Linked DNA regions of Homo sapiens. The protein of the gene in region 3 purifies or fractionates together with the protein of the main gene of each other region. This does not show direct contact. Each region holds a gene or a part of one and is shown on either strand. Other genes may lie near its edges.

Region 1 (3,236 bases), on a different chromosome or scaffold from region 3:
AGGAGATGCGGAACTCCTACTTGGCAGCTATGTGGGAGAACATGGAGCTGATAATGGCTGATGGCAGGCGCCTCCAGATGGTAGCAGTGTCTGCAAAGCCATCCTATTTTTATAAGGATTAAATAAGTTAAAATTCCCTGGTACATAAAAAGAAAATATAAAAGTACTATTATTCTAGACATTTTTAAGAAATCATTTTTTACGTCTGTCTCTTCAGAGCATCCCTGGTTTTATAAGATATAAACTATGAGAAAATTTGGAAAGGACACAACATATAATCCTTAGTGTTTACATAAAAATTCCTGTTAATACTTTTGTGAAAACTATCTTCCCTTCCCCACAAAGGAATAAAAGAGCATTATTAAAATGTTCTTGTCTCAAAAAAAAAGGTTCCTCAAACTTTTCCTTTATCAAATGTAAATCACAGCTGCTCTGATGAAATGTTTTTTAATTAAGTCTCTATATAAAGAATGTTCTTAAATGTCAAATCTGCACCAAAATTTAATTACCTTAAAACCATCCATATTTTCTAAGTGCACACTTGTTAAGAACGTTTATTCCCATTATCTGCTTCACCATGTAACTAGCAAGGGAATCTTGGGAGTATGTAACACAAATTACTTGCCTTAGAAAAGACACTGTTTATTCCACATGTGTAAAATTCAGTGAATGACTTTCAGAAAAATCAAAAGAAAGTAAATGTAACATCCATACAGTTGTTTAAGCTTTATTTTTAAATGCATGCATGTTTCAAGGAAACAAAAATTTCAAGATACAGAATACAACATATCAGATTAAATAATTCAGAATTATTTTAATGTATACACAAATAACAATATAAAGCACATACATAAGATACATTATATAATTTGAGGTTTCAAAAAGCAGTAATTTGGTTTTAAAATTCTGACACCAATATCTAATGTAACATTCAAGTAAAACATATTTCAAAAGTTAAGACTCCTGAGACTAACACATAACTCTATGACAGCCTGCCTTTACCACGATCTTCAAAATAGTGCTGTTCAATTCTCCTACAGAAAGCAAGGAGGTTGCTATAGTTTTTCACCTTCTCAGAAAGTTCATCATTTGTCAATTGTGTGGTAAGAATGGTGTATAGATGGCCAAATACCAGTGCGTCAAGTTCAGTAGGCCTAAAAGTAGAAATGAGAGTAATGTGAGTAAGTAGCATTTAACTTTTACAATAGAAAACACAGTTGGCCCTCTTCACCCACAGGTCCCATACTCGTAGGTTCAACTAACCTCAGATCCAAAATATTTTAAAAGATTAGAAATAACAATATAGGCCAAGCATGGTGGCTCATGCCTGTAATCCCAGCACTTTGGGAGGCTGAGGTGGGCGGACTGTTTGAACTCAGGAATTCACAACCAGCCTGAACAATGTGGCAAAACCTCATCTCTACAAAAAATACAAAAATTAGCCAGGCATGGTGGTGCTTGGCTATAGTCCTAGCTACACGGGAGGCTGAGGTGGTAGAATGGCTTAAGCCCGGGAGGTGGAGGTTGCAGTGAGCTGAGATCACACTACTGCATATCATTTAGATTGTGTGTATTGGGTACTATAAGTAATCCAAAGATGATTTAAAATATACGGATGTACATAGATTACATGCAAACACTGCACCATTTTTTCTTTCTTTCTCAATACATTAAGTTTACGTAAGCAATTATGCCATTTTATATAAGAGACTTGAACTCTGCAGATTTTAGTATCTGTGGGGGTCCCGGAACAAATGTCCTGTGGATACTTGAAAGACCCCCGTGGATATGTTTTTTAAAATCATTTTATTCATCAACTTAAAAGAAAAAAGCCACGTAAGAAACAAATCCTACCACAACTTGATATAACTTTTCTTGGAGTTTCTGCTATATGGAAAAAAAATATGATTTGCTAGTTGTGTGACTTGCTTTCTTTAGTAACAACATTTAGGTGTGTTAAAATAATATAGATGTAATGATCATATTCATTTAATTCATTACTTTTCTCACTAAATATAGCAGATCTCCAATGTGCCAGAAACCATACCAAATGCTAGACATAAAAACAAGAAAAATACTCTAAGACATGTACATGAAACATAAATTATAAAGTTGTTTTAATAAATACAATTTATTAAGTGTTTTAATAGATGCATAAACAAAATGCTGTCAAAGCACAAAGGATTTCGCTGTGGTGATAGGACCAAAAAAATGATACCCAATCACAAATCAACAACAAGACACAACTTTAATTTTACCACATTTAAAGTAACTTAGATTTCTGAAGGAGACAAAATCATAAGGATGGCTTCAACATAAAAATTTCTAGGAATTTTTTTCTCTGTAATTATATATTACTAACAACAAAATGAAATCTACCCCACTACTAATGATCTATAAATGGGGCATCACCAATTTACATTATATTAAAATAATTACTAATGCACTATTACTAAAACAAGAAAATGTCATCATAATTACGAGCTAATTATTACTGTGTCCCACAGTGATAAAGTTTTTGAGAAAATATGTGCTAGCCTACATAAATGTGAAAATATGTTGCAGTAATCTGGTTTGGCAGAATAAATTTGGGGGTTGGTAAAAATCCAAATTTGAACTCCAATACTATCACTTACTAGCTATGTGGCCTTGAACCCTATTGATAAGTAGTCTCCTAGAGATGCATGGCTTTAAATACCATCTTGATGCCACTGACTCCTAAATATTTATCTCTGGTCCTAATGTCTCCCCTGAGCTCTGGATTCATACATTCAAATGCCTACATAACATCTCCACTTCAATGTGGAGTATCTGTGGAGCAGGATGTGGAGCATCTTGACTAAGATGTGTGGGATACTTTATTTTCTCAATAGCAGTAATTTACAGTATCCCAAACCTGCTTGTCCCCCAAACTTCCCAAAATAAAAGGCACCACTATCCAACCAGCTGTTCAGGCCAAAAATTTAGGGGCTACTCTTGAGTTCTTTCTTTCACCCTCCTATATCCATTAGCAAGTCTGGTGAGACACTACCTCCAAAATATGCCCTGAATGCCACCACTTATTCTTCATTATGATTTCACAGTGTAACCTACCATCATCTGTCACCTAGACCACTGAGATAGCCTCCTAAAGTGTCTTACTGCTTCTACTCATTCTCCATACCATGGTCAGAATGACTAATGTCAGCAGATCATACCAACTCCAAGCACAAAATATTCTAATGGATTTCTGTTCT
Region 2 (3,752 bases), on a different chromosome or scaffold from region 3:
GTCCTCTCTGCAGCAGAGGTCAAAGGGAGCAGGGAGGAGCAGGTCTCTCTGCTGTCTCATCTGACTACGCGGGACAATGCTCCCCTCAAACCCCACTCCAGGTTTCTCCTCCACTCACTGTCTAGGACCAGGTCACATACCCATGCCTAACACCATCGCTAACATGAGCAGTGAGTGTCCCATGTTCAGCTAAGGCCAGCAAGACCCATCCCCAGGGCATGAACAAAACGAACAGTCCCTAAATTAAAGACGGGGAGGGATGAGTGTGGGGTGGGGTGCAGCCGCCTGTGACTGCCATGCCACACCAGCGCCAAGGTAAAGGATGTGAAGGGAGAGCACGCCTTCCCCTTCCTGCCAGGGGAGGCCATGGTGGCCCAGCCCTGGCCTGGGTCCTTGAATTCCACCCCATCCTAGCCATTGAGGTCACAATTCTGACTCAAGTCTGCATTGCATGCACCAAGTCTTAAAGGGTCCTCTTATTTCCTGAAGAGGACTGGGTGGGGGGGGTTTTATCTGCATTGACTTCTCGTTCTTACATATGCAGGGCAGATGAGCCCCTGGTGTGCAGTCCTCTGCCCAGCTCCGGAGACCCGCTTCACTGGCCTGCGTCAGCTGCCGCACAGGCGGCTGGGGCAAGAATACAGCTGGGGTGTCTGGGGCAGCCCCTGATTTGTCTCCAGGTGCTTAAGCACGGCTCCACATCTGTATTTAAGAACTGTGACATGGGTGTGTCTAGTTGTGGGCTTTTTAGGCTGCTTCTTCCTTGGGGGACGGCTGGCCTCATGGCATTTCGTCTCAGGCAGGTGTTCTCAGGGACTGCACATACAGCTTTGGTTCTGAGTGTTCTGACACCTGTTTTAGGAGCACTTTCAAGTCACAGGCCAGGCTCTCTGCCTCCATCGCAGAGGCCTCCCCTCCTGTTCTGCTCCCTGAGTCTCCAGCCTTAGAAGGCTGTGCTCTCCCCTCCCCAGGCAGGGTTAAATCTGCAGGGCAGTGGGTGCCTTCAGTGGCACTGCCAGTCTCCCTGGGCTCTCTCTTGTCACCTATACTGCTGTCCCCTCATACCAGCCTCTTGCTGTGTCTTCTGTTCCTCCTGACGGTGCTGGCCCTCTAGAGTCTGAGACCCCAGAGCATGACTTCCATCATAGCCTCTGCTGCACTCCCCTGAAGCAGGACCCCACCCTGCCCTCATGGGGCCCTGGTGAGCCTGGTTCCTGGCTGCACCGTGGAGGCCAGCAGGCACTGAGGGGACCTGTGTGTCATGGTGAGTGGCTCAGGGGAAGCCCCAGGCTTAGTCAGGGCAGAGCTGTCCTAAGCTGTAACTCTGTGAGGCTTACTGATCTATGTGAAAAGAGGTACCATAGACAGGACAGGCGGAGGCTAAGTGGCCCCAGCCTGAGTCATGTGGCTGAGCCTCATGGAGCTGGAGGGCTGACCTGCTGAGCCCTGCCCTCTACAGAGGCACAACAGAGACGCCGACACTTTGCAGAATGGCGATGTGCAGGAAGACACAGCCACATTTGCCCCTCTCCCCATGGTCAGCCTGGCTGTGTCCCCTCCTCACTGGCTTCTCCTACTTTAGTTTCAGGTCCCAGGACAAGGGCCTCTGCATTTTGAGGGCAAACCTCGCAGTGGGCTCCCAGTTTAGGAGAAACTGGGCCATGGCGAAATCTATCCCCTCCTTGCCAGTATCGCCCGTGGGACCATGACAGCCTCTCTCTCCTGGGACTTATCAGAACAATATGAGGAGACAGAATGGAAGGCAAATGTCAACTGGAAGAAATTTCACCCATTTGTCCACAAAAAGGCTCTGAATGGGATAAGACAGGGAGAGCATAGCTCTGGAAATGAAAAGCTTTCTCTGAAGCAAGGCAGGGCTAGGCCTTCGGTGAAGCCATTCACAAAAGTAGGTGCACTCTATCCACCCTGAACCCCTCCCAGCCCTGGCACACCATGACCCTGTTTACAATGCATACAAAACAGCTCCCATGTTCAGAAACATGGTCTTGCAAACAGCTACTCTTCACATGCACAGATAAAGGTATCCAAAGTGTGCCACAAACTTGCCAGGGATAGAAATAAGTCCTGTACCCCTGTGTAAGGACATTTCCTTGGAGAATGAAGATCTAATGGTCCATGTGGCTTCGAAGGGGTTCACACCATTCGCATTGGTGTATGGGGTGTCTGTTTGCACAGGCATCAAAGACAATGCCCAGGAAGTTGGCTCACCTCACTGGCTCTTATGTTCCTCATTGGTACAATGGGAACAGTAACACCGCTTGCCCCATAGAAGAACAGAATTGCATGCTGTGAAGTGCAGCTCTCATAGCAACCTAGCCATCAGTGTGAGAAACCGAGGTGGGGCCAGGGTCTGGAGTGGGGTGAGCTTGCAGAAAGGCTGGGTTACTGGAGGCACTTGGCAGAGAAGAGCTGAGGATATGCTGGGGTGGTGGAACTGCCAACGTAGGGCTTGGAGGGTGGGACCTTACCTTAAAGGGTCCCTCCCTCTACAGCGTAAGCTCTGATATCATTCGAGACCTAGTTCAGACCTCGCCCAGCCTCAGTGGTGCCTCCTCCTCAGGCATGTTAGGGCATTAGCGAGTCTGCATAATCATGGTGTCTCTTCAACAAGGAGCTGGCAGATGTCTGAGGCTGGGACTCTTGGTCTAGTGGAAAGAACACAGGTTCTGGGATCAGACAAACCTGGGGCAAGGCGCTGGCTTTGTCACTTTCCACTGTGTGGTCGGTGCATCAGGTATGGGGGAGGACCCCACCCCACAGAGCTGTTGAGAGGATGGCAGGAGAATGGCAGGTGATGCCCAAGACGGCCCGGTCAGAACATGCTCAGTAACGCAGTGTGGCCCTGAAGGAATCATTGGCATTCAGTAAATAGGACCACAGAAGACCCCACATCCAGCCTCCTGATGGCCCTGAGAATGTGATGGCCACAGACAAGGCACATGGGTCCTGGTCCCTGGCAAGCAGGCCGCATAGGTCTGCCTGACTCCCAGAGCCCCCACCCTGTCGGCTGAGACCACAGACACAGCAGAGTCCAGAGGCCCCATGTGGTTCCTTCCCAACCCCTGTGCCTGAGCGGGCCTCTCCCACTGACCACCTCTCCTGGACCTTCTCCATTCCCCGCACTCCATCCAAAACACATTCATCTCTCAAAATATGGAAAAGCTTTTCAAATCGAAACCCCCTTTTGCCTCCATCTCCGTCCCAGGCCACAGCAGCTTCTCCTTGCTTAGAGAGGTGCTGCCTGGGGCTCCCCCTGCCCCACTCCCCTGGGCCCCATGCCGAGCCTCACTGCTCAGCTGACGGCACCTGCCTGGCCCTCACTGCCTCTCTGGCCACTTACTCTGGTTCTCTTCTGCTGGACCCTGGGCCTCTGCCTGTGTGCGAGCTCCACCTGTGGCCCCTGCCCTTGTCCCCTCAGCACACCAGCATGGTGCCCAGCTCAAGACCTGCTGTCCCCTGCCTGCCATGCAGCCCAGCAGGTGGCCATGGGCCCACATGGACCAGATGTGGCTAGCCCTCATCCCAACATCTCCTCCTCCTGAATTTCAGTTGGGTCGGCAGCACCAACACCCAGCTGGTCCAGCTGCACACCCAGAGCACCCAACTTCTCCAGCCCCCATGCCCACAGAGCACTCCCAAGTCTAGCCTACAGGAGAGCCCTAGCCCATGCCCTTGTTTTCACTGTCATTAAATAGCCTCCCAACGGTCCTCTCTACTTCCAGCAACAGTGA
Region 3 (3,752 bases):
AGCCATCAGTATTAAAGGATGCTTCTCCAGTTTATGAGTGAATTTCTGTAATCCCAGAATATAAGAGGTGGAGTATGAGGAGGTGCAATGGAGACTCAGAAACCCTTTGGCTCAGCTCTGCCACTACCTAGCTATGTAGCCTTGAGATATCAGTTGACCTGAGTCTCGGTTTCCTCATTGTGATATGGAATGTAGACCACATCTAAAGTATTAGAACTATTTTCATGAGGCTGTTATGTGAGATTTAGTAAGAAAATACAGCTGGGTGCAGTGGTACACACCTGCAGACCTAGCTACCCAGGAGGCTGAGGTGGGAGGATCACTTGAGGCCGGGAATTCAAGGCTTCAGTAAGCTATGATTCTACCATTGCACTCAGCCTGGTAGACAGAATGAGATCCTGTCTCATAACGGGTATACCAAAAATCTCACAAATCACCACTAAAGAACTGACTCATGACACCAAATGCCACCTGTTCCCAAAAAAACCTATGGAAATAAAAAATAAATAAAGAGACCCTGTCTCTAAACAATAAAATTGTTTTAAAAGAAAAGAAAATGGACATTATTGCTAAGTCATAATAAAATAAAAGAGATCAATGCAGATTCATTCTTTCCTGAAAACGAATATAATAGGGAATAGGGATAAAAAGTGCAAGGGCCCCAAGTATTAGAAGCAGCAGCAGGGCAAGAAAGCAGAAGTTGAGTCCCCTAACCAGGTTTCTGCTCCTATAGACTTTATCTGGGCCAGACCTTCTGCCAGACACGGAAGAAGAAGGAATGTCCACATCAGGCTTCCCAGCTGTGTTAAGATGCTCTAGTATCACACGGATCTTTTCAAATAATGTGTTAATGCAACTGAAGCCAAGCTATCTTCTGGATTCTAGAAGCACCAAGATCTTATTCTGCCATTCAATGGTGTGAGTTTCAGGGGGGCATTAGGAAACCCCAGAGATAGGTATGGAATGGACTAGAGAAACTGGAGAGGTACCTGGGACTGGATCATAGAGTAGATGGTGCTCCCCCCTCCAGGAAAAGTCTGCTCCTGCTCCTGCACAAGAAATGGAGATGGGGTAACATGAGCGACAGTTCGGTCTGTCCAGATTTAGATTGAGTGGGGAAAAACAGCACAAAGAAGAGGGCTTTTCAGGAGACTGGGAGGGAGGTGGCAGGACTGGGGAGAGTCATTGATCCTCCCAAGATGGGAAGAGACAGGAAGAAGAGCAGTTTGGAGTGGAACCATTAGTATCAGGAGCAAGGAACCACCTAGGTGTGAGGGGTTCCAGCAACCCTGCTCAAAGAGAATGCTGTCACTTTCTTTCCTTTAGTAACTTAGAAACCCTTCCTTGCAGAGCTCTGAGTAGGGCTGTTATCTGAGCCTTACCTCAGAGCACTGAAATTCAGAAAGTTTAAACATTTCAAAGACCAAACACAGTTAAGCCCTCTCTAGATCATCTTTGAGGCCACCTTGCCCTTGACCTCAAGTCAGCGCCCTGGGCAGCTATAGTGCTGGGTGCAGCCCTGAACCCAAGGGCCAAAGCAGGAAGCAGAGCTTCCTGCTTCCCTTTTCTTGTTCCTACCCCTTAGGAAATCGGTGGTGGAGGTATTTCATGCTGCCGGCCACTGAAAGCATATTGCCAGTTTGGGTTCTACTGGGAGCCAGTGGAGGCAGCAGGGTTCATTAGGCAAGGTGCAAGCAAAATTCCTGGAAGCAAGAAGAAGCTAAGAGAAGCAGAGAACTGTCAGCTGTCCTTAGAGGCTGGGGAGTCATGGGCATCTGACAATGTCAATAACTTCATTTGTGTTTTAAAATACTGCAGGAGTTTGTTGCTTTTCTCTCCCGTCCAGACCCGTGTGAAGTGTTTCTAGAAAGATTAGAGCTGGGTCTCAAAGTGAGACCACATGAAACTTGAGATTTAGGCCTTCAAATTGGAGCCCTGAGACAATAGGGAGAGGCCAGAGAGGGCTGAGGCCAGGCAGGGAGGAGCTCTTGAGTCGGAAGAAGTAAGCTAATAGGCCTGAATCCCAAAGAGGTTTCCTTTGCTCTAAGTTGTTTTTCCTCCTGTGGTCTCCTAATCTCAAGTCATCTTCTTTTTGGAAAAATAGATTATTTTTAGCAAGCACCCGGGCATCACTGGCTGTGGGTAGATTCACATGCTTTCAGGAATTTGTACCAGAGTCTGGTAGCAGTGAGAGAAACAAAGTCCCCTTTTATTATTCACATTCCAATAGCCACTGCTTTATTTTTCACATTCCCATAGCCACTGCTGGGGCAAAAATAAATAAATAAATAAAGATAAAAATAAAAAAACAGGCATGGGGAGCTGCTCTAACAGCCTCTGAACCCAGAGGCATCTGGGAGAGGATGCTTGCCTGCTCTGCGAGGCTGCACAGGGCCTCACGTATGTGGCCAGCACGGAAGAGCCCCACCACATGTGCTTCCTGCGTGCTGCTGGGTCTCCACAGCAAAGCGCCAGGGGGCAGTGGAAAGAAGGCACTTCCGCCCCACTTCACCCACCCTGCCCCACTTCCTGCCAGCAGTTTGGTAGGCTCCATCAGAGCTTTTCCCCTGGGCCTGTCACCACATCTGCCCTAAGCGAGACACAGCAGTGGGGGCATCTGCAGGCCCTCTGCAATTTCCTCCTCTTCTAATTCTTGGATGACAGGCAGAGTTGGCCCCTGCCTGCTGCGAAGAGCAGGCGAGAGGCTCCTGGAGGAGCCTACTCAGGCTGGTGGGCTTTGTGCCAGGCTGGTTACTCTCTCTAGTACCTCAGCCACACTCAGGCCTCTTCTTCCAAAAGGCTGTGAATGCAGCCTATTGAGCCAGCTACAAAACTATTATGCTTTGGCTGGTCACACTTCCCAGCCTGTGTCACCATTAAGGGACTCATGAATGTAAGCCCTGACTCATTAGGAAAAAGAATTTGTGGTCAGACAACAAATACCACAGCAGCACTCTGCCTCTGTCATTGATTTCTGTTGTGCTCCATCCCTTCTCAGCAGGTGCAATTCTGCACCAAGATGCCCCTTCAGCCTCCCTTTCATCTCCTCTGCTCCTTTTGTTTCCTCTTTTCCTCCATCACCAGAACTAGGAAGCAGGTGGAGAAAAGATAGATGGGGAAGGGCTGAGGGTCACATCAAAAGGACAGTCGTTCAGTCCTTTTTGTCCCTCTGCTCTGAATAACCATCATTGAAAGAGCATTTTCCAAGCCAGCTGAGAGAGACCCCAGCCTCCGGGATGACATACGTGATTTCTCCTGGTTTTCAGATCCTTGACATCTTCGTAAATTGTCAAAAATTCCTTGGGACTGGTCTCTGAGGGAGGAAGAAAACAAAGAGCAGAGCTGCAGAAACCTCCAGAAGGGCTTTTGCTTCTAACAGGTCCCACCTCTACCCCAAATGGCCAAACCTTAAAAAAGGTTCTAGAAAGGAGGCAAGTTAATGCTCTTCCCAGGAACCCCAAAGAGCACAGAGGCAGCAACCGAACTGCCCCTCCCACACCTCCTCCCAAACCAGCTGTCTACAGGGAAATCTGCGCATTGGGATCAGAAGGCATGAACTGGGAGAGAGAGCCTAGCAACCTGCTTGCCCCCCGCCACCACGCACACAAACATACCAAAGCTCGTTGAGGAAAAGGAGATGCTGTGCTCCCAGACACATCCCACTGGACGCAGGACAAAGTCACAGGATCCAAGGCCTCAGGCAGGAGCACCACCCTAAGGACCTTCCACTCACCTGACTGCTTCTCCTTCCT

What was found.
Region 1: the proteins of CD244 (region 3) and MTX2 purify together in Homo sapiens (affinity purification with mass spectrometry; 4 studies listed by BioGRID and IntAct, with this or other methods). This does not show direct contact.
Region 2: the proteins of CD244 (region 3) and CHCHD6 purify together in Homo sapiens (co-immunoprecipitation; 3 studies listed by BioGRID and IntAct, with this or other methods). This does not show direct contact.

Annotation. Positions count from the first base shown.
Region 1 is NC_000002.12:176,335,411-176,338,646, reverse strand, and holds the end of MTX2 (metaxin-2), read right to left. Parts: intron 1,155-3,236; coding exon 983-1,154; 3' UTR 622-982; downstream 1-621. UniProt on the Homo sapiens protein: Involved in transport of proteins into the mitochondrion.
Region 2 is NC_000003.12:126,952,136-126,955,887, reverse strand, and holds part of CHCHD6 (MICOS complex subunit MIC25), read right to left. Parts: intron 1-3,752. UniProt on the Homo sapiens protein: Component of the MICOS complex, a large protein complex of the mitochondrial inner membrane that plays crucial roles in the maintenance of crista junctions, inner membrane architecture, and formation of contact sites to the outer membrane.
Region 3 is NC_000001.11:160,835,206-160,838,957, forward strand, and holds part of CD244 (natural killer cell receptor 2B4 isoform 1 precursor), read right to left. Parts: coding exon 3,734-3,752; intron 3,314-3,733; coding exon 3,246-3,313; intron 1,050-3,245; coding exon 990-1,049; intron 1-989. UniProt on the Homo sapiens protein: Heterophilic receptor of the signaling lymphocytic activation molecule (SLAM) family; its ligand is CD48.